Linked DNA regions of Homo sapiens: all the other regions are linked to region 3. Evidence: fine-mapped expression QTL. A gene starts in region 3. Each other region holds a variant in brackets. All regions are shown on one strand. Distances are from middle to middle. Region 1 has its middle 53 kb from the start of RAMP3. Region 2 has its middle 83 kb from the start of RAMP3. Region 3 holds the start of RAMP3 (receptor activity modifying protein 3). Region 4 has its middle 96 kb from the start of RAMP3.

What was found. PIP is the estimated chance that this variant, and not a neighbour inherited with it, causes the effect.
Region 1: its variant is the best candidate, but not a certain one, in a credible set for the expression of RAMP3 in tibial nerve (GTEx, PIP 0.81).
Region 2: its variant is the best candidate, but not a certain one, in a credible set for the expression of RAMP3 in whole blood (TOPMed, PIP 0.68).
Region 4: its variant is the best candidate, but not a certain one, in a credible set for the expression of RAMP3 in whole blood (INTERVAL, PIP 0.57).

What each region holds. Positions count from the first base shown.
Region 1 is chr7:45,208,355-45,213,820 of GRCh38, reverse strand. No RefSeq gene overlaps it. Among named protein-coding and RNA genes, the nearest start is that of RAMP3, 53 kb to the right of the region's middle. The variant A/G (reference allele first, on the strand shown) is at 2,558.
Region 2 is chr7:45,238,053-45,243,518 of GRCh38, reverse strand. No RefSeq gene overlaps it. Among named protein-coding and RNA genes, the nearest start is that of RAMP3, 83 kb to the right of the region's middle. RefSeq lists enhancers at 1,298-1,797, 1,798-2,299. The variant G/A (reference allele first, on the strand shown) is at 2,858.
Region 3 is chr7:45,155,312-45,160,777 of GRCh38, reverse strand. It overlaps RAMP3 (receptor activity modifying protein 3), which reads right to left and starts at 2,987. Exons shown (of 3, transcript NM_005856.3): 1 at 2,892-2,987. The coding sequence starts at 2,949.
Region 4 is chr7:45,251,329-45,256,794 of GRCh38, reverse strand. No RefSeq gene overlaps it. Among named protein-coding and RNA genes, the nearest start is that of RAMP3, 96 kb to the right of the region's middle. The variant G/A (reference allele first, on the strand shown) is at 2,671.

The DNA of each region.
Region 1 (5,466 bases), 53 kb before region 3:
ATAAATGAATAATAAAAAGCCAGGTGATGAACAGGCACCTGCTGAAAAGGAAGCCCAAATGGTAACAAGTATATGAAGAAATAATCACAGTTACTAGTAATAAGATAAAGAATAACTTTTAGTGAGGTGCCACTTTATACCCAACAGAATCCCACACACAAAAAAACTAGAAACGTGTATAATACCAAGTGTTGGCTAAGATGTGAAGAAGCAGGAATCCTCCTCCCCATCAAGAGGAGAGGGAACTGGTTTCAGCCATCTGGGAAAGCAATATGGTGGCATTCAGCAAATTAAGGAATTCAGCTTCTGGGTATACATCCTAAAGAGACTCTCAGAGAGCTTCACTCAAATGCCCATAGAGGATGCTGCTCATCACAGGATTAACTGCCCTAGGGCACTGAGCACAGCCCAGGTCAATGATGATAAAAGGAGGAGAATGGCCAAGAAAAGGCACTCTAGGCCTGTGCAACAGGACTGGTTGATGGACCCAACACTCACTCCCATCCCCTTATCTACCTCCATTGTGGCACCTGGAAAACATAAATATCCCCTCTTTCCAAATGCCCATGAGGGTGGGGCGGCTGCCGAGCCTGCTGAGAAGTGTGGGGAACCTCTGCTTCCTCCAATGGCTGACAGCACCCCCTTCACCGCACACACAGCAGCAGCGAGACGGGGTCCCGGGCACTGGGGACAGCCACAAAAGGGAGAGCGTTCACATTCAACCCTTCAACTGGATGTTTTTGCTCTCCCTGGCATTTCATTTTTATGATCTCTTTCTTGTCCTCTGAACGCCTGTTCACAGGCATCCTGCTCATTTGGATGTGACGTCTGCTCCTGCCCCGCCTAGAATAGCCCTTCTAGTGCTGCTACTGCTGTCTGCTTTGTCTGCTTCAGTCTCTGTTGTTCAGTTTGGAGGCTCTCCTTGAAGTCAGCCGATTCTTGGCTGAATGTGAATATTTAAGGGGAGAACATTAGAACACTGGCTGGAAGCTCCCCAGGAGAGGGCGGGGCCTGGGCACTGAGGTGCCATGGATGGGACAATCACATCCTGCCCCACAACCTCCCAGGGGAGCCCCAGAGGGCAGCATCCACAGCTCTGTCCTCTGAGTTGATCAGTTTTCTCAGCGTAGGAAGGGGGATTTTCCAGTCTGCATATGGAGGAATGGAACATTCTAGAAGCCCAGCAAGAAAAGCAGCTGGAGCTCACCTTTCACAGTCTCACTTATTCACCTTCCACCCCAGCAGGTCTCCTGTAGGGTGGGACAAGGCTCAGGGACTTAACCAGCCCACAGCCCACCTGGGCCAGCGTCCTCACTTCCCTCCAGTTCTGAGCCTCTCTGGGGTCTGGGGCCCCATGGCTTGCTCCCCACTGGCCCACCCAGGTTTGTAGGTCTCACCTTCCCTCACTCTGCAAAGTTCAGCCACTTTCTGTCTCCCAAAATCTTGCTGACATCTCTCCTTGGCTGTCATTCCCTTTTTTATTCTCTTTGTCCTTGTATGTTCCTTCTCTGTTCATTGAGTGGAATTTGGGGAAATGAATGTTACTCCACCACACTTAACAAAATTCCCATCCATGAGTTTCTACCACCCGCCTGGGGTTCTCTCCCAACTGGGGAAGAAAGGGGAGAAGGACTGGGGTCATACAGGGCAATCTGCCAGAATCTGCCCATGTCTGCACCCTCTGTTCCTATTTCCCCTTCTTCGTATCATGCCCTGTGTCCTCAGACCTCCAAGCTCCACACAAAATGGGAGGTGTGAAATTTCTACCTCCCTGTCCTAGCACAATGGAGCCTGGCCTGCTAGACTCTTGCCTCACTAGAAATCCTAGTCAGTCTCAAAACTCAAAGCCAAGCAATGGCATTTGTGTCCTACCCACCATCTGAGTGTTATTAAATCAGTAGGTGGGAGCCACAGGACTACATGATCTGGGGAGAAATAAAAATTCATTGGTTTAATGTTTTGAATGGCCACCAGTATACTTCATGCTACAGGGGGCATGTGAAACAGAAGACTTTGGGCCTATCAGCTTTTCTGGGGAGGTGAGGAGCTCAGAACGGGAGGATGAGATGTTAATTAGGCCAGAGGAGAAGGAAGGAGGAAACCAAATGAGCAAATGGCCCAAGACAGGTGACTTCTCAGCACTCCCACAGCAGCAGCCATTCCCATGCCAGTCCTCAGTCTGATGTGTCAGATCTCAGGGCTTCTACTCATTCCCAGGGCAGAAAGTATGGCCATCACATGAAGCAATGGTAGGCATCCAGGACAAATTTGAGGATTTTACATTCAAAATTCATGTCCTAGAATGGCTCCGCCTTGACTTGTAAACACCAATGTTTAAAAGTCACTACCCTCTCAGGCCCTCAGTCAATCCCCGGGCAGTGCCAAGCTTTCTCCTACATCCAGACATCAGAGCCACACAGAGTGAAGGCACCAGGTCAGACGATCATCTGAGCTTTCCCTCAAAGCTGCTGCCCACACAGCCCAAGCTGACCTTAGTGGGGATCACACAGCAGTTGCGTCATGAGTGGACACTTTTCAAATGAAAGCTCTTGGGAAC[A/G]TCTCAGGAGACAATGGAGGGAAACCCACCTTCTTCTAATGAGCTTCCTCTCTGTCAAGTCCTGCACGGTGCCAGGCATAGGTGGGGCTTCCAGGATAATATCCTTTAATTTTAGGGGAATCACATGTAGTGTGGCCCCCTGGGCAAGAACAGGAAATCCTGCTAGATATAACTTGGTGTGTTTTATAGCTCCTGCAACTGTTTGAGAGACCAATATCAAATTGAAGGTCTGGGAGCAACTACACCTAACAATGAGACTCTGTCCCAGAAACAACAGCTTCCACTCTGCAGTCCCAGACAAAAATCCTGTCATTTCTGGTAGCCACGCATTAACTCAAGCGCTCAAGAATGCAGTCACAAAATGTACCTAATGACTCCCACATCTAGCTCTTGGCCTAAATCTCTCACCTAAGCTTCAGATTTAGATGTGAACCCAACATACCTCAAACCTAATGTGTCTAGAACAGAACTCATACTGGTGGGAGGAGGTCAGGGAGACTTTACAGATGAGGAAATCTTTAAATTGGGCCTTGCAGCAGAGTAGGAGGCAGAGATGGGAAAGAGGATGGAGAGAAGGTGGGAACACATTTGAGAAAAATTTAGATGGTAGAATCAATAGGGTTTGAAGACTGATTGGATGTGGCATTGGGGGAGGGCTATTAGGGGAATTCAATAGGTTTCAGCAACACATTTTTAAATACTCATTTTTGAAATAGATAATACATGTACATGGTTTAATATTCAAGGACTACAAAAAGGCATATCATGAAGAGTGGGTATTCTTTCCACGCCCATACCCCAGGCATCTGTCCCCTCACTGAGTGGGTCTAGGAGGGGCCACGAAGCATAACGTCTCTGCACCTGGGTCTTTTCACCCGATAACACACAGGGAAGACTATCCCCACTCAACACGCATCAAATGGACCACATTGCATTTGTACTTAACTAGAATTCGGTTCCTGAACATTTAAGTTGCTCTCTAGCTTTTGCTGCAATAAATATCCTTACAGATATATATGTGCAAGTGTATCAGTAAGATGAATTTCTTCAAGTGAAATTGATGAGTCAAACGTATATGCATTTCCAGTGGTTTTTGTTTTTTGGTTTTGGATTTTGGGTTTTCTTGAGACAGCGTCTCACTCTGTTGCCCAGGCAACAGTGGCACGATCACAGCTCACTGCAGCTTCAACCTCCCAGGCTCAAGCCATCCTCCCACCTCAGCCTCCTGAGTAGCTGGGACTACAGGCATGTACCACCATGCCCAGCTAAATTTTTTTTGTAGAGTTGTGGTCTCCCTACATTGCCCAGGCTGGTCTCAAACTCCTGAGTTTAAGCAATCCTCCTGTCTCTGTCTCCCAGAGTGCTGGGATTACAGGCATGAGCTACTATGCCTGGCCTCCAATGTTGTGCGATAGATACTGCCAAATTGCCCTCCACAAACAGTGTCCCAATTTATACCCCCAGCAGCAACATATGAGAGTAACTTTTTCCTTGCACCTTCCCTGACACAGTGTATTATCACACCTTTAGACTTTTTTTTTTTCTTTAGACAGAGTTTCGCTCTTGTTGCCCAGGATTTAGTGCAATGGCACGATCTCGGCTCACAGCAACTTCCGCCTCCCAGGTTCAAGCCATTCTCCTGCCTCAGCCTCCAGAGTAGCTGGGATTACAGGCATGCACCACCACGCCCGGCTAATTTTGTATTTTTATTGGAGACGGGGTTTCTCCATGTTGGTCAGGCTGGTCTCCAACTCCTGACCTCAGGTGATCCGCCCGCCTCAGCCTCCCAAAGTGCTGGGATTACAGGCATGAGCCACCACACCCAGCCACCTTTAGACTTTTGCCAGTCGGATAAAGAATAATGACAACTTCATACAGTTTAAATTGTGTTATTTCTTATTTTAATGAGGTTGAACATCTCTTCACCTGTGTAAAAGTTATTTCAATAAAATAATCCCATTGACACCTACTATATCCTAGGTATTGGGCTTAGTAGAAAGGACAAAAATCAGAACGACTCCTGTTTCTGCCTTAGCTAACTTGGTGGATGACTATGTCACTCACTGAATACAAGAAGAGGCAGAATCTCAGTAGAGATGTGAAGGGGTTGAGAAGAGAGAACAGGAAGATGTAATAGTCCAGATGAGAAAATACACTGGTCTAAACTAGCCCCGTGGCAGAAGGAACAAAGAAAGAAAGGATTAAAGCCGTAGAAAGAATAAACTTTGGGGACTACATGGGTGTGGAATCTGGGAGAGGGAGGAGTCATGTATTATTCTTCAGCTCTGGGTTAGAGAGTTTAATAAAAGATGGATCCATTTCCTGAGAAAGAAACACAATAGGAAATGCAGGCATTGAAGAGGAGATTATAAGACTAGGATATATGCTGCAAGTCAAGGTGCAGTGACAGGAAATGTAGTTACCTGCCAGTCTGAAAAAGCAAGAAAGGAAAGGAAGAAAGGAGGGAGGGAGGAAGGAAAGGAGAGACAATTTATAAAATACAACCGTTTTCAAAATATTGGACATCAAATAATGAAGGACAATGGTCCCTGAGAGCTGGAAAACAAGCAAGATGAGCCCTAGGATGCCCCAGCTTCCTGTCTTAGGAGAATTTTCAGGTTGTAGAATAGAGAGGGGGAGTTGAGAATACGGAGCTGAGAAACTCAGGGGACTAGAGTTTTCAGGACATGTTACAAGATGTGATACAAGCTGCACAGAGAGAGAGTTCTGAAGATATGCAGAGGGTTCTCCTTGAGTCTTCAGTTAAAAATGATCAGTACATGCATGAAGAAACTACCCAAAGCCAGGAAAAGAGCCATTTCAAAGGGTTAGAGAAAATAGGATCCAGTATTTACACTACCCCAGTACCACAGAGCTGGTAACAGTACCTATTCCCACCAGCCAAATTG
Region 2 (5,466 bases), 83 kb before region 3:
ACGGAGGCATGCATGTATGTGGGCACAGACACACAGATGCACATGAACATGCACTCACACACACACACACAAAGACACACACCATGCTCATGCACAGACACAGATGCACGCAAACATCCACACAGAGATACACCCAGACACACGTACACAAAAAAAACACAGAGACATGCATACACAGACACTCAAATACACACAGACACACATGCACACACATGTGCACACACACATGAGGAACCTAGTATCCCTCAGCGCCTTTTCGGTAAGGTCCCGGGGAAATGTGAGTACAGCAGACATTTGTCCTTCCTAGGAGGTTTTGGATCAGAACACTTAGCTCAGCCCTGTGAGCCTGATGACCCTCAGGGGACACTTGCCCGGGCACAGTGACAGAGGGTGTAGAACCAACCAGGACAGGTGGCCCCCTTTCTTCCGTCTCCCAGGCTCAATGGGCTCTCTGCACTTTACCACTCCAGTGACAAGAACAGCCTGTCCAAAAAAAAGCAAACAGCTGGAGGGTAACACACCAGAAGGTATGCCCTTACCTAGAGCAGAGAATGGGCACCACCTCCTGGGCCCTGCAGGACACAGGTAGGTAGCTGCAGCCTGGAGCCAGCACCCATTCACCACACCCACAGGGCTGAGCCAACCAGGCCCTGTTCAGCCTTGCCTGTTGTAGAGACCTCAGCGCACTTCACCAACCAGCACTTCAGGGTCTTTGCCCAGGCTGTGCGCCTGACAAGCATACCCTTCACCTTCTGAGCTTTAGGTCTGGCCATCAGTGTCACCTCCTCAGAATAGAGTCCTGGACATTTTAATATTATGTCATCTAGACTCTAGATCCCCCTAGAGGATGCTGTTTTTTGTTTGTTTGTTTGTTTGCTTGCTTGCTTGCTTGCTTGCTTGCTTGCTTGCTTGCTTGCTTGCTTGCTTGCTTTCAGGCAGCCAGTCCAAGCGGCTTCCAGCCATCCGCTCTCCTCACTTCCTTCAGTGGCTCTGATCTCTGCTCAGCTTGCAAAGCCTTTGCTCTGTCTTACATACGCACAGCTCAGAGGTGAGCCCTGGACTGCAGCCCTCCACAGAGGTGAGGGACCCTCCTGCCAGGGCTCCTTTTCCTGGTTTGGCTGAGTGGAGAGGGCAGGGTTTCTTTCAGAGCTGTAACTGCTAACATCAGCTCAGCACAAAGCTCCACAGCTCCAGCAAAGAGGGAGAGCAAAGATCTTCCGCATTCATGGGAACTAGAGGCCCTATCCTTCTTCCTTTGGCTGGAAAGACGGGGTTTCTGTTGGAGTTTTGGTCTCTGCTGCCACTGCACATTTCTGCACCTGGAACCAGCCCTTGGGTTCAGAATGAGAGAGCAAAGAAAAAAACATGGGGAACTAACTCACTCTGTGGGTCTCTAAATCAAGTTTTGACTATTCCACATTCAGTGGCTTTGTTTACTTCTCTGAGTCCTTGGGTAATTGTACTTTTATTTTGCCAGTGGTTTCTGTTGCAATCAGCATCATAGGGAGGCAGTGGTGGGGCCTCACCAGCTAGGTCCAACCAGGAACCCCAGCAAGTGGCCATTCAGGCAGGCTCCATGGTGATTCGAGGTGGCTGAGTGGACAACGAGGGAAGGGGTTTGCTGTGCTCAACAGAGAGACAAGCAAGGCACCTGCTGGGGCCAAACAGCACTCAGAGACTGAAGGGAGACGGAAGAAAAAGCCACAGGGCAAGCTTCTCAGAAGGCGGCTCCACACCCCTCCTCCATCCTGCTCACTCCCAGAGCCATCCTTAATGTGTGGACCCCAGTTCTCAAGGCATGGGGTGCCCCACCTGCTCTCCATGCCAGGGTGTCAGGCACCTCCAGGCAAAATTCCTTCCCCGCCCCTGCTCCCTTAAAGTAACTTCTTTTGTTCCTCCAAGGGCTTGGCCCACTGGTCACTTGCCACCAGGGATCACCAGGATCCACTTCGCCCCATGCTGGCCCTTATAACCATTTCCCCGGCAAAGACCCAAGAGCAAGTCTTTCCATGTCCCTGGAGTACAATCAAAGACTGGAAGCTCCCTTCCCCTCCACCGCCCTTGGGCAGGGTGTGGCCCTCCTATCAACTCTGCTGAATCATCCCTGCCCCATCCACACCACCTGGCCTCCACCTCGCACTTCTGCCTGCCTTCTCAGGGATGCTCCTTCCCCGACGGCTGGACCCACTCCCTCCCTAAGGCTGCTCTCTCTTCACCTTCTGTTCACACATGCCTTGAACACTCTCTATCCCTGCCTGCCCCTCCAAGCCCATCAGCATGGTCTGATCTCCAAGCTCACCTCTCTGTTCAAGCATCCTTGGTGGTCTTCTTCTTACCAGCAAGCTCCAAACCTGTCCACATGGTCTGGTCTCTGTACTCTCCTCTCAGCTCCAGCCCCTCTGGGACACCCTCTCTTCCCTGGGCATCCCACCTGGGCATGGGGAGACTCTCCGAGGGTCCTTGCTCCTGTCAGGCTCACCCCAGCCCTGCTGCTGGGGCTGCCCGAGTGCCATTTCAGTCATGAGCCTTGCTCACCTGGATGGTGGAATTCTATTTCACGTCCTGAATTGTTCACACTGCCATCGCATCATGTGTACTTTATTATCTGCTTTGTTTAAGGACAAATCTTGGGAAGAAAGATAAATTAAGAGGTAAAGACTAGAAACCAATAAGCTTAGTGTCAAAGATATTAATTTTTCCCAGAAATAAGACTTGGGAGGGATTATCCAATGCCATTTTCCCGCTATCATAGGAAGGCAGGCTGTCTCCCCTAGTGAATGCACTTACCCTTCCCCCACGTTGCTCCCCTTAATTGCTGGGGGACATTCTCATTTAATAATTTTTACTCTGGTGGTTT[G/A]CATATCTCTAGAAAACTGCAGCTGAAATAATGAGATAAACAAATGAATTTCAGTGAGGTGGGGCAGGGGAGTGTCTCTCTAATTCTGAACCAAGCGGAAGGGGAGACTTCCTTTCCTAACTCAGAAAAAAACTCTTAAATGGAATGTTGTATAAATTGTAGAAACCTTTTTTAAAAACAAGCTAGCAGGAAACTGAGGAAGTTTTGCTTTTAATAAAATAGATATAACAATAGAGCAAATAACATTTATATCTACTGGAAAACCGCTAAGGGCGGGGCCCCCAGGAAATGAGACAGGAGTTGACAGAGACAGCCTTGGGCCCAGGAGTCCCGCCCAGTGAGGGGTAGTGGCGGCTGCACTTAGATGCGATTATTGTGCTTACATAGTGAAGGAATGTTTAAGTAATAATTTTGTAATAATTTTGAAATAATATTGACTAACACCCAACTAGACCTCCTCCTCCATAAATTACTATATTTAAAGAGCTCACAACCAAATATGAGAACATGACTTTTCAACATTTTGAAATTCACTCCTTAAAAAATAAAAATAAGAAAACATCTTGACTTCTAAAAATATGAATAAAAGAACTATTGACTTTATATTTTGTGTGTGCAAAAGGAAATTTTCTTGTGAATATCAAAGAAACAAAATATTTTCCCAGCAGTGCTTGGACTATATCTTCTTAAGCAAAGAAAAAAGAGAGTATACATTAGCAGTGCAAGGGGGCCAATTTAAGAAAGAAGTTGAATTGTGCACAAAAAGGTTGTCCACTTTACACTTCCCTCTAGAAGTTAAGACGTGTTCTTCCCTGCCTGGCATCCCCAGTGCCTGTGTCCCGAGGGCTGACCCCATCCCCTAGCTCAGGGCTGTGCCCACCATGAACTCCCTTCACTCTGAATGGTGGCTGACTCAGGGATGAGCCTGTAGCCCGTCCGTGGCAACTGGCACCACTCCCAGACTCTTGGTGAAGCTGTCAGGCAGGAGAACCCACTCCACGGGAATGAGTAACCAATGGAATGTATCTCTTCTGAGATGCTGAAGGCATATTTGCCCAGAAGAGGAGGCTCAACCAGGCCAGGGCGCTGAGGGGGCTAGACCAGTCCCCATGATGTTCCCAGCAGCAAGACACAGCTGGGCCCACAGTTCACTTTCAGCAAAAAAGGTTGTTCCCTGTGGACTTGTTCCAGGAACAAAACTGAGTCCGGCTGAGTTTTCTTATGGCCCAGTAATGAGAAGCAGACAAACTAGGAAAGAAGGGAATTTATTGCTGTAACCAGCTATAGGGAGAAGGCCAGAGATAATTCCACCAGACCAACTCAAAGTGTTACAATTTTCTTAGTGCTTATACAGGTTAGGGTCATGTGCCTATGAGCGGTATCACATTTGCCTAAGTCTACAGGTAACTAATTTTGTTTTAACTAGAAGGTCAGAGGCCAAAAAAAAAATGCTTTCTAAGTCTGATCAGGCTGTGAGGGCCCTAGTACCTTCAAGGCCTGTCTCCTAAATTCTAATTAGTGAGGACTGTGGTACCGGAGTGATTATTTCTAGCTATCTCATTTACAGCTTGGTCAGGACAGCTGCCTTCAATTCTCTAATAAATCTATTTAAACAGCTGCCTGTGTTCCCTTGACTCATCTCAGATTTTGCCGACCTGAGACAGGTCCTGGCACGAGGAATGGAAGGCTGTCTCCGTTATTTTGACTTGCTCCAGGTTAGGGAAAAGTCTGTGCAAGGCTCCTACTGACCATATGTTTCCTTTCTAGCTTTGATGTCTGGGCATCAGTTTCCCCAGGTTTAATTATTTGCTCAATGTTAAGGCAGTGCTGTGGAAATTTGTCTGTGTAACTGTCGGAGAATTGGCCTGCCACAGACCGACACCTCCCGAGAGCCTATTTACAGTGGAACCTGTGGGGGGTGAATTTTTCATGGAGCCTCAAAGGTAGAGAGAAGAGAGAGCCAGGGCAGAGGAGAGAAATGTGCAGCAACGATGGGGAGAAACCTAAAGAACAAAGTCTGAAATCACAAATGCAGGTCACTGCAAATCCAAATTCGATTCTTTTCAGTCCTCATGAACAATGAATGCATAGTTTGAAACAAAAATGGAAATACTGGATAAATACAGCTAGAAGGTAGAAGGTAGGTAGGCAGGTAGATATGTCAACCTAAATAACAGAAAAAGTCTTTAAAAGAAAAGATATTTGAAAGACCAGAACTCCTTAGTGAAATGATTTGAATAGTGGAAGAGCCTAAGGAATGACTAGCAAGGATGGACATCAGAAATGGGCATGAGCACGGGACAGTGGGTGAACTCGGTGGGAAAAGAGCAGATGTGTGTCTGTCGGGCCTCATGGAGGGACTCCTTGGTGCCTGATGGAGAACTGGTCTGCTCGGAAGAACACCTTGTTCTTAAAGAAGAGACAACAGAGAAGGCTGAAGGAGACCCAGGGAGCAGTTGGGCACAGCCAAAGCTGACAGCTGTGATTACCTGGAGGGCTCAGAGAGGAGGAGCGTCATCCAAATGGGTGGTGGGCGTGGTTGCCTTCCAAGCCTCTCCCACCTGGGCATCCAACTCTCAGGAACATCTGACAAAAACGATGTGTGCTGG
Region 3 (5,466 bases):
CATTGGGAAACAAAGAACATGCCGGCCTGTGTTTCTTTTGTCTCAGGGACTTCCAGACGCCACTGAGAGATGATAAACAGCCAAACAGATGCATTTCCGCCAGAAAGGGCTTTTGTGGCTAGTCATTTGGAAATGAAACACAGGCGCTCTCCCCCTCCTTGACAGAAAGAGCATCGACGAGACTGGCAAGTGGCTGCCATGGGCCACGGTCAGTCGACCTTGGGAGGCTGTGGATTCTGGGCGGTTCTGCCCCTGGTCTCTGTGGTTGGGCAACTTCCTCTCTAACCTCCAGATTTCTGTTTCCTTATGAAGAATAGGTAAGAGCATGGAGGTCAGATAACCTCCAAGGAACCTCCAGTGCCAAAAATCTATGGGCCTCTTCTTGGCCAATCACCACCTTCAAGTCTTTTTTTTTTTTTTTTTTTTTTTTTTTTTTTTTTTTTTTTTGAGGCAGAGTCTCGCTTTGTCACCAGGCTGGAGTGCAATAGCATGATCTCGGCTCACTGCAATCTCCGCCTTCCAGGTTCAAGCGATTCCTCTGCCTCAGCCTCCTGAGTAGCTGAGACTACAGGTATGCACCACCACACCCGGCTAATATTTTGTATTTTTAGTAGAGACGGAGTTTCACCATGTTGGCCAGGATGGTCTCGATCTCCTGACCTCGAGATCTGCCCGCCTTGGCCTCCCAAAGTGCTGGGATTACAGGCGTGAGCCACCGCACCCGGCCGGCCACCTCCAAGTCTTTAATTCACCAGAGTTACTGCTATCCAACCATGGCCCTTGGGCCCACTTGATTCAGTAGAATCAATATGACCACAGGTAACATGGCAGCAGGACATCATTTAATGATAAAAACGATGGTACCATGTTCATACGCTTGCACACACAGGCACACACACTATGGTGCTCCATCTTTGGGTGCTGTGAGTGAGCCTCATGAGGCCCAGTGCAGTCACTGGTGGGTGCCTTCCCATACCTCCCCTTGTTTAAGCATGAACCCTTCCACCCCACAATCCCATGCCCAACACAAGGTGATAGGGACTAAACTGAATGGAATCAAACTGACGGTCTCAGCAGCCCTTTACAGATTGCTATTATTACATCTACATTGCAGCTCGGAAACTGAGGCCAGTGAGTGCTTTATAATCTTGGGATCATGATCAGGATTTTCACCCAGACCAGAAGAGTCCAGTCAAGAGCTGGGCACCACAGCAAAGTGTCCTGCTGAGTAGACAACTGCTGGACTTCGCATCCCCACAGCCCCACACAGCATCAAATGCTTTCTGGAAAAAGGTCTGGAATTCTCAAAGAAGCCCCAGAGGCCTGCACCCTCCCTGCTGGTCCTCCTGAGCTAGTCCTCAGTCAAGAGGAACCCACCCAGCTCCTTCCTTCCAGACACAGCAGCATCCAGGGCAGATGTGGGTTCCAGTCCCGGATACCTCTGACACATCGGCCTGGGACCATGAGCAAGTTTTACCTCTCCCTGAATCTCACTCTGGCCAGTCGAACACTGGGAGGGTCTGCTGAGAAGCTGGACCTGGTCCCTATTCTGGCCAGGGAGCGTGAACCCATGTCCCATTGGAGGGGGACAGTCAGGACCAACACAACAGGACAAAGAAGTGGCCCTCAGGAACTGGGTCCACGAGAGACAGGATTATTAAGGGGGGATTCTGTGCAGGCGGAAGCCTGTGGTCCTTCTCAATTTGATACTGGAGATGATCAGGAAAGCCTCAGCTTCTCCCAGAATGAATTGAGAGGACCTTCCTTCCACTATAGCGACCAAGATCTCCACCTAAGGGGCGCTCACTGGAAGTTTGCTGAAATCCCAAATCAGCATGCTCCTGATTTCAGAAGCTGCCATCCACCTTTGCACTTCAACACAAAATCCACCACATCCTAGGCTCCAGCCCTGGAACACCAAATGAAGCCACACAAGTTCTGCACACCAAGACCTCTTCAATGGAAGGAAAATGACCACTGAGTTTGGTCCACCCTTTTCCCACCTCCCGTACCAAATCCCAAATCATCAAAACAGGCCCAACTCTGCATCTTACAGCCAGGGAAACTGGGGACCACCAGGCCAGGGCCCTCCATCACCAATGTCCCCCCCAGAACTGGCCAGGCTCAGTCACCACTCAGTGGACCCCAGCCCTCAGCAAGCACTCTTCCCCAACAGCCTTTACACACATTCTCTCTCTCTCTCTCTCTCTTACTTTTTCTTGGATAATTTCTTTAGCAAGGTACTTCAAAACAAGCTTTTAGTTTAATCTATTTCCATTTTGTGAGCAATGGTTCTTCCTAGAGTCCTGATTTCTTGCCGAAGAAGGCATTAGGAGAGGATGGCTCAGAGAGTCGCCCCGCTTCCCCTCTCAGCCAGTTCCAGGACACACACAGGCGTCCACACACTGAGGGGCCCTGGGAGGACCAGCTACCCAGTCCGGAGTCCACCCGCCCACGCCCCTGTGAGTGGTGGGCAGGCACTCAATGCCAGGACAGAGAGCTCACTACCTTACAGACAGCCCACCCTGGGGGATAAGGGGTAAAGAGCCAGACCTGGTCCACCTCTTCTCGCCCACCCTGAGGCGACCCCAGAACCGGGGCGTGGGGGGACATCACAACTAGAAGGACCGGGGGCTGCCGGACCCTGCCGTCAGAAGACCCCGGAGGGGGCCCTGTGCCTCCCTTGCCCGCCAGAGTCCTTCGCCTTCAGCTTCTCCCGGGTGGAACCCTCCCGCAGAGCCTGGGAATCCCGCCAGGGTCACTGTGCGCCCCTCCCGAGCTCCGGGGCAAGGGAAGGACCGCGGCGCAGGTGCGGGAAGGCGCGGGTCCACCCGGGTCCGGTGAACCCCGAGGAGTGGGGGCGCCCCCGGTGCGGGCCGTCGCCCCCTTACCGCAGAGCAGCAGCAGCAACGGGAGAAGTTGCGGGCGCCGCAGCGCTCCAGTCTCCATGGCTGGCCGGCCGCAGCTGGGTCACGCTCGGTCCCGCTGGGGGCGCGGCTGGGGGACGCCCGGTTGGGGTTGGGGTGGGGCGGGGCCTCAGGGGGTCCGCCCTCAGGCCGCACCCCCAGACCACGCCTGCGGCCGTGCCCCGTTGCCTCCAGATGTGGGGTGCAGTCCCTGCAGGCGCGCCGGGTGGGAGGGATGGGGGCGGCTGGAGTCTCAGCGGGGTGAGAGGGGGGCGAGGGCAGGGTTTCGAGCTGGGGACAAGCTGGGGTAAGGTGGGGTGCCGGCTGATGGGCTCTGAGGGCGGGGCTGGGGTGCTGAGCTGCAAAGGAGCTTTTTGGGAGCAGATTGTAGGGGCAGACTGGGAGGTGAGCTGGGGTGAGCGTGGGGGCCGGCTGACGGTGGGCTGGGATGCAGGCTGGAGAGACTTGGGGAACTTCCGTCCAGGCTCAGGGGCAGAGGGTGGGGGTAGACCGGGGAGGGAGCTGAGGTGAGGATGAAGCGCTGGCTGATGATGGCCTAGAGGAGTCTGGGGGTAGACTGGAGGAAGGTGGACCTGGGAGTGGGCTAGGTGTGCCCTGGCCGAAAGTAGACCAGAGTCCAGAGCTGCCCCCAGGCAGGGAGGGGAACTTTGAGCAGAGATACATCTAGGAGCCAGGTCTCCAAAGGTCAGGAAAGTGCATAAAAGAGGTTGGGGGGTGTGTGTGTGTGCGTCTGTGTGTGTGCGTGTGTGTGTTGTTCATGGAGTACGTGTGTGTGATGTGCATGTGGGGTGTGTGTAGATGCATGTGTGTGCATGGAGTGTGTGATGTATGGTGTGTGTGTGGCATGTGTGTGTTTGAGTCTGAGACAAGGTGTGTTTGTGAGTGTATGCTTGGGAAACAGTGTGTATGAGAGAGACTGGAGGGTGTGGCAACTACACACACAGAGACGTATCACACACCAAGAACCAAGCCACAAGCAAACCAAGGGACAGGAGAGTATCTGGCACCACCAAAGACCTGGCCTTGAAGAGTGTCAGGGTCCCTGAGGCGAAGGAGGGCCTCAGTTTCTCCAGCCACAGGTCACTTGGCCAGATGGGTCACCTCTGTCACCCTCAGCCCCTAGCACAGGCCCTGGCTCCAGTGGACACTTAATGGTGTCTTAAGAATTGTCACTGGTCAGGACTTCCGAGAGCCAGCTAGAGGCACCTCTCTGCCCTCCAGGGCCCACCCACCACCCCTGGGGGCACATGCTGGTCTGAGGTTGGGGCACAGGCCCAGGCTCCTACATGGATGGGCCCTCCACTCCTCTGAGCCGTAGGTACTGCTACCTTCCCAGGAGCTGAGCTGAACTTCTCCTGGCTTAGAAAGACCCACTTTATTTAACAAGACCCTTATTCGGGAGAAGAACTTTCTGTGCTTTTTTACTGAAGAAATTCTGATTACAGCCAGAATTAATTCAAAGGAGTCAAAACTAATTAAAATTGATCATTTGTCCTGCCTTCTGCCTGAGGGGTGGGCAGCAGGTGTAGGGGTGGCCACAGAGCCTCTAGTGAGACTGATGGTGCCCACAGCCAGGCCTTCTGCCCACAGGCCAGGGGTCATAAAACAAGCTGACCAGGGCAGCAGGGGGCTGGCTTACACACACGCACACCCTACACCAGCCAAGACAAACCAAGAGGATGGTCCAGGCCCAGGTGTCCACCCACATCCCACACAGACTCGGCCCTACAGCTCTCTCCAGGAGAGTCTTAGTCTCCACTCGGTCCCACAGCCCCAAAGGCGGTTGCACATAGCTTGCAGGCTGGAACAGTAGGATGGGGTTGTCAGGTGGGAGGGGGGCAGCCAGTTCCCCCAAGCCTGCACCAGGGAGCAATGCTCCCTTTCCTGGACTCCCCACCCTGGCTCTGCAGTGGGGAAGCCCTGGCCATTCTACAGAGTTGGGTTCCAACACCTCTCCTCCATGGAACCAACCATGCCCCAACAAACTCCCAGGGAGTTGTGTCTACTGCCCCTAGGTCCCTCTAAGGCAGGGCCCTCACTTCTCCTCTCTGTGCCCAGTGGTGCCCATGGCCTCTGCAGGGCAGGTGGGTTTAACACAGGCTGTGAGGAGCTGAGCCATGGGAGAGAGGGACCTGCCCCTTCCACGGTGCATCCCCCCGACCCTGAGTGTGGAAAGGCTGCCGCCATAAATGAGATTGACCATGGGGTGTGCCCTGGACAGCACCTGTCTCCCTGCTTGTCCCTCGGTGGGTGCTGGCCCCGGCACCATTCCCTGTGTCTGCGATCCTGTGTGCACTGGGGTCCTCTCAGGAATCCCCTCTTAGCGTTCATAATTATTTATTTATTTTATTTATTTATTTATTTATTTATTTATATTTTTTTTAGAAGGAGTTTCATTGTTATTGCCCAGGCTGGAGTGCAATGGCATGATCTTGGCTCACTGCAACCTCTGCCTCCGGGGCTCAAGAAATTATCTTGCCTCAGCCTCCCGAGTAGCTGGGATTACAGGCTTGTGCTACCATGCCCGGCTAATTTTTGT
Region 4 (5,466 bases), 96 kb before region 3:
GCCACCTGTCCCCTCAACAAACCTCTCCCATGTTTATTTCCTATCTCAAATTATGCTTGTGGTATGTGTCAAGTTGGCTAGACCATGACACCCAGATGTTTGGTCAAATGCCGGTCTAGATGTTGCTGTGAAGGTATGTTTTTAAATGAGATCAACGTTGAAACCAGCAGACTTTGAGTAACGCAGGTGACCCTCCACAGTGTGAGTGGGCCTCATCCAATCGGCTGAACATCTTCAGAGAAAAAGACTCAGGTCCCCCGAGGAAGAGGGAAGTCTGCCTCCAGACTGACTTTGGACTCAAAACTGTAATATCAACTCTTCCCTGAGTCTTCAGCCTGTTGGCCCGCCCGGCAGATGTCAGACTTGCTGGCCTCCATAATCACATGAGCCAATTCCTCTGTCTATAGATAAATATAGATAGATGGACATCGAGATAGAGCTGGAGAAATACAGATACAGACAGATTTCTACCACCTATTGATTCTGTTTATATGGACTACTACAGATTTTAATACCAAGGATGGTTCTAGAGGAACAGAATCTTAAGCATTTTGAGAATCCTTAAGATCTTAAATCTTCAGGAGCTTTCTGAATTGCTTCTGGGGTTTCTGGAATTGGCTCTCTAAGCTGATTACCTTTAAAGGCACTGATGACTACTCCTAATAGTAGAGAGAATGCAGATAGTCCATGGTGTGATGTAACAGTAGAGTTAGGTAAAACATCACTGTTGAATACTCATAATCAAAAATTTATTAAGAGCCAAGGATCTGAGTGGTCATGCATATGGTACCATCAAACATTTTTAATCAAACTAACAAGTATAATGAGATTGGTTGACTGCTCCTGATGTCACTGGACAAAGCGGGGAAAGAAAAGGATGAGCTCGGGAAATCAAATGTTCAGCTCAAGCTCCGCATAAATGACCTGAAAGCTTCTATCCCTGCCCTGAAAGAGACCCTTATTTTCTGTAGCTGCAGAGCTGAGATTGCTGAAAACCAAAACTATAATTGAATCACACCCTACAAGTGGCTGAATTACAACACAAATTGAATTGGACAACCAAGCAGGATGTCTACTCTTAAAATGAGAAATTGATTGGGAAGAAAATGATACTGAAAATTGGTATGGGTGATACAGGAGTTATTACCGAGGCATTACTGAGACTCTGTGGCCGTCTAAGAACAAATCACTTAGGCAAATAGTGAGGGCATGGGAGTCCTCGGTAAGATTTTGTTTTTAATGAAAAGCAGCCCCAAATCATTTTCTAACAAAGAGCAGCCTGTAATGTTGAGCTGCAGACATAGACAAGCAGGCTGGGAGCTTGCACGGGTGAATGCCGGCAGGAACTAGGGACTAGACATGTTCAAGATGGCGGCTCCAACTTCCCTTCTTTGCCAGCCACCTGTACAGTAAGGAGCAGACAAGATGGCTGCTGGCCAAGGGGAGAGTTTATTTGCCTTGTAAGACTAGGGTGCGGTGACCAGCCTTCCCCACACACCATGTAAACGTCATACCTGATGGAACCAATCTGTGAGCCCTACGTGAATCAGACACCCTCTCCTCAAGCCAGACTATAAAATCCCACACATCCCCTGCCAGCCAGTCTTTCCGCTTGGAAGTCCCTTCTTTCAATAGAGAGAGCTGTTCTCCTTTCTCTTTCTTCTGTCTATTAAGCCTCCACTCCTAAACTCCTCATGAGTGTTCGTGTCCTAAATTTCCCTGGCACAAGATGACGAACCCCAGTTATATACCCCAGACAAGGTAGCCACTTCATGGGGACATGTGGGAAGACCCTGATGAAACTGGAGACATTGATCCTCTGTGTTCTGGTAAGTCTTCCTTGCCAGTAGAAGCAGCCTCTCCAGCCCTGACTGAGGGGATTAACTCTGCATTGCCTGGGGAAGCTGCAAAGGCCTCCCCTGAGGCAGCTGCCATGCAAAACAGTGCTGATTCTCCTTGGGACCCAACCCCAACACCCCTTTTTGCTTCTAGAGCTAGAACTAGACCAGAGTCCCAGCATGCCTTTAACAGTAAGGATCAAAGTGTGCCCCATGAGGAGGTGTGCTGCACTCCCAAAGAACCACTTTAGCCAGGGATAGTGGCTCATGCCTGTACCTGTAATTCCAGCACTTTGAGAGGCCAAGGTGGGCGAATCACTTGAGGTCAGGAGTTCGAGGCCAGCCTGGCCAACATGGTGAAACCCCCGTCTCTACTAAAAATACAAAAATTAGCCAGGCATGGTAGTGGGTGCCTGTAATCCCAGCTACTCTGGAGGCTGAGGCATGAGAACCACTTGAACTGGGGAGGCGGAGGTTGCAGTGAGCTGAGATCACACCACTGCACTCCAGCCTGGGTGACAGTGAGACTCAAAAAATAATAATAATAATAAAAATACTTTGGTTTTCTAATTTATACAGACAGAAGTCTGGGAAGCATGCGTAGAAATGGATATTAAAGGTGTTGGATAATAGTGAAAGAAACATAAAAAGTTGGATTGGATCAGGCTGAATTTATTGATATGGGCTCCCTAAGCAGTGATTCTCTATTTAATGTTGCAGCTCAAGGAGTTAGAAAAGGTTCTGTTTGGTTGGTTGACTGCAACACGGGCCAGAAGGTGGCCTACAGTAAGTGAGCTTGAAATGATGGACCTGCCTTGACATGCTATAGAGG[G/A]AGGGATTCAAAGACTTAGGGAAGACCGGGCGCGGTGGCTCACGCCTGTAATCCCAGGACTTTGGGAGGCTAAGGCGGGTGGATCACGAGGTCAGGAGATCGAGACCATCGTGGCTAACACGGTGAAACCCCGTCTCTATTAAAAATACAAAAAAATTACCTGGGCGTGGCGGCGTGCACCTGTAGTCCCAGCTACACTGGAAGCTGAGGCAGGAGAATGGCGTGAACTCGGGAGGCGGAGCCTGCAGTGAGCCGAGATGGTGCCACTGCACTCCAGCCTGGCTGACAGAGCAAGACTCCGTCTCAAAAAAAAAAGACTTAGGGAAATTAGAATGTTCAAGTGGATTTATCATTTAAGATCTGCTCACCCTCCTGGGAGGGTACCTACACACCCATTCTCTTACTCCAATCAGGTGGCACCACCTACCATCCACAGTCCTTGAGAATCCCAGAAAAGAAACAGAGGAACGATATTTTCCTGACCTAGTCTATGATGTGAGCCATAAGGATTTGCCCAATAGTCCATGCCTGGTCTCTGCTCAGATCAGTACTGGGGTGTGGCTGCTGTTTCTGGCTGCTCTGAACTTGGAATGGACAAGAGAAACACATGCAGGAAATGGCAAGGCAGGATGTCTGCCCTGGAAAAGATGGAGAGAGACACAGAGAGACAGAGAGAAAAAGACACAAAGAAAGACACAGAGACAGACACAGAGAGACAGAGACAGGCAAAGAAAGAGAGAGACAGACAGAGAGATTGAGAGGAAAGAGAAAGAAAAACAAGATTGAGAGAGAAGAGAAGGAGACAGGGAGAGAGAAAGAGACTAAGAAAAAGAGTGCAGATGGCAGAGTTCTCCCAGGAGATCAGAGAAGCAAAGTGCAAGGAAAGGGCAGGAGAAGGTGGTCAGGTGCATTCCAGGACCAAACTTCACCTCAGTGTCCCTCAGACCTCAAGGGATGTGGCAGAACAAAGAGCAAACAGGGTGCCAGGGCTAGACCTGCAGGGTATCTCCTGGTTACCTAGGGACCACAGCCAAGGGAGGGGAGGGAGGAGCCCAGCATGGCCCTACCTACTGTAAACAGGCAACTACCCCTTTCTGAAAGGAGGGCAGAGCCAAACACTTCTGCTCCCCTAAACAGGAGCCAAGACTGTGCATGGATCAGTGATGCAATGGGAAGGAGTATCTCCTGGTCCCTCCCCATCTCTGTTTGTCTGTATCTCTCTCTCTCTCTCACATACACACACACACACACACACACACACACAGAGAGAGAGAGAGAGAGAGAGACAGAGAGACACAGAGACAGAGAGAGACAGAGAGACAGAGACAGAGAGAGAGAGAGAGAAATGCCCATTATGGACTAAAATTCATGTTAGAATCCTAACCCCCAAGGTGATGATATTTGGAAGTGAGACCTTTGGAGCTAATTAGGTCATGAGGGCAGAGCCACCATGAATGGGCTCAGCACCTTCATAAAAAAGGCCCGAGAGCGCTCCCTTGTCCCCTCCATCATGTGAGGACATCACAAGAAGGTGACCGTCTCCCAGCTGGAAGCAGGTCCCCACCAGTCACCCCACAGTGCTGGCACCCTGACCTGGGGCTTTCAGCCTCCAGAACTGTGAGAAATAAATTTCTACCGTTTATAAGCCACGTCAGCTATTGTATTCCATCATATGAGCCCCAGCTGGCTGAGACGGTGCCCCAGCCTCTCCCAGGGAGTTTAACTTAACTGCTTTTCTCCACTTATTGCCTGGAGCACTCCCATCCCTGGGGCTGGGTTCTGGATGAGAGGCCAGGGATGGCACAGGTGCTCAGTGCCTCTCCTCCCTGCACATTGGAGGCTGCTACTGGAGGAGTCATGGAGTCAGTTACTTCTCTACCTGGGGTGAGGGGGCTTCCAGGCAGCCCCATACAGCTCCACTGTAGGGTATGCCCTGCATGTGAGCAGGGGATGCGGTCTTCTCACGTATTCTCCACAGCCCCTAGAGACGTAGAAAGCCGCGGCCATTCAACATATGTCACTGGGCAGGCGGTGCCTCTAATACTGGTAATGCTAGAGGTGATGTTTTTGGTAAACAGGCGGGGTAAGATTTGCCGAGTTCCTTTTACTTTTTTTAACCTTTCCTTATAAGCATGCCTGTGTTGGGTTAACAGTATGGGTAGCACCGGTTTGTCTAAAACCAGCCACTCTCTAACCCTGAAGCCCTGGGAAAGTCCCTTCATTTCTCAGGAACAGTTTCTCCCCTGGCAGGTGGAATAAGTCATAATAGAACCAACTCAGACCTCCTGGAGACTGGGAATTTATAGGGATATTAGCATAATAAGAAACAAATTTGATCTTGGAAATATAAGGAATGGTAAGAATTCAAAGTGACCATGTGATGAATGAATAAGCATAATGAATAAAATATGATATGATTTTCTATAACGACTGTATCATCCCTCCCCAACCCATCCCCAGCAAGTCCATGGTATGCATTTGTGCTAAAATAAAGCATGTTACTAAAATAAAATCTTCACCCTGAAGGATTTCCAATTTCTCCTGTCGTATTACTGACTTACAATGATTGACTATTTCTTTGTTATTATTATTATTTTAGGCAGAGTCTCACTCTGTCACTCAGGCTGGAGTGTAGTGGTGCCAACACAGCTCACTGTAGCCTTCACCTCCTCCTCCAAGTGATCCTCCTGCCTCAGCCTCCCAAGTATCTGGGACCACAGGTGTGTGCCATCACGCCCAGCTAATTTTTTTTTTTTAAGACAGTGTCTCACTCTGTTACCCAGGTTGGAGTGCAGT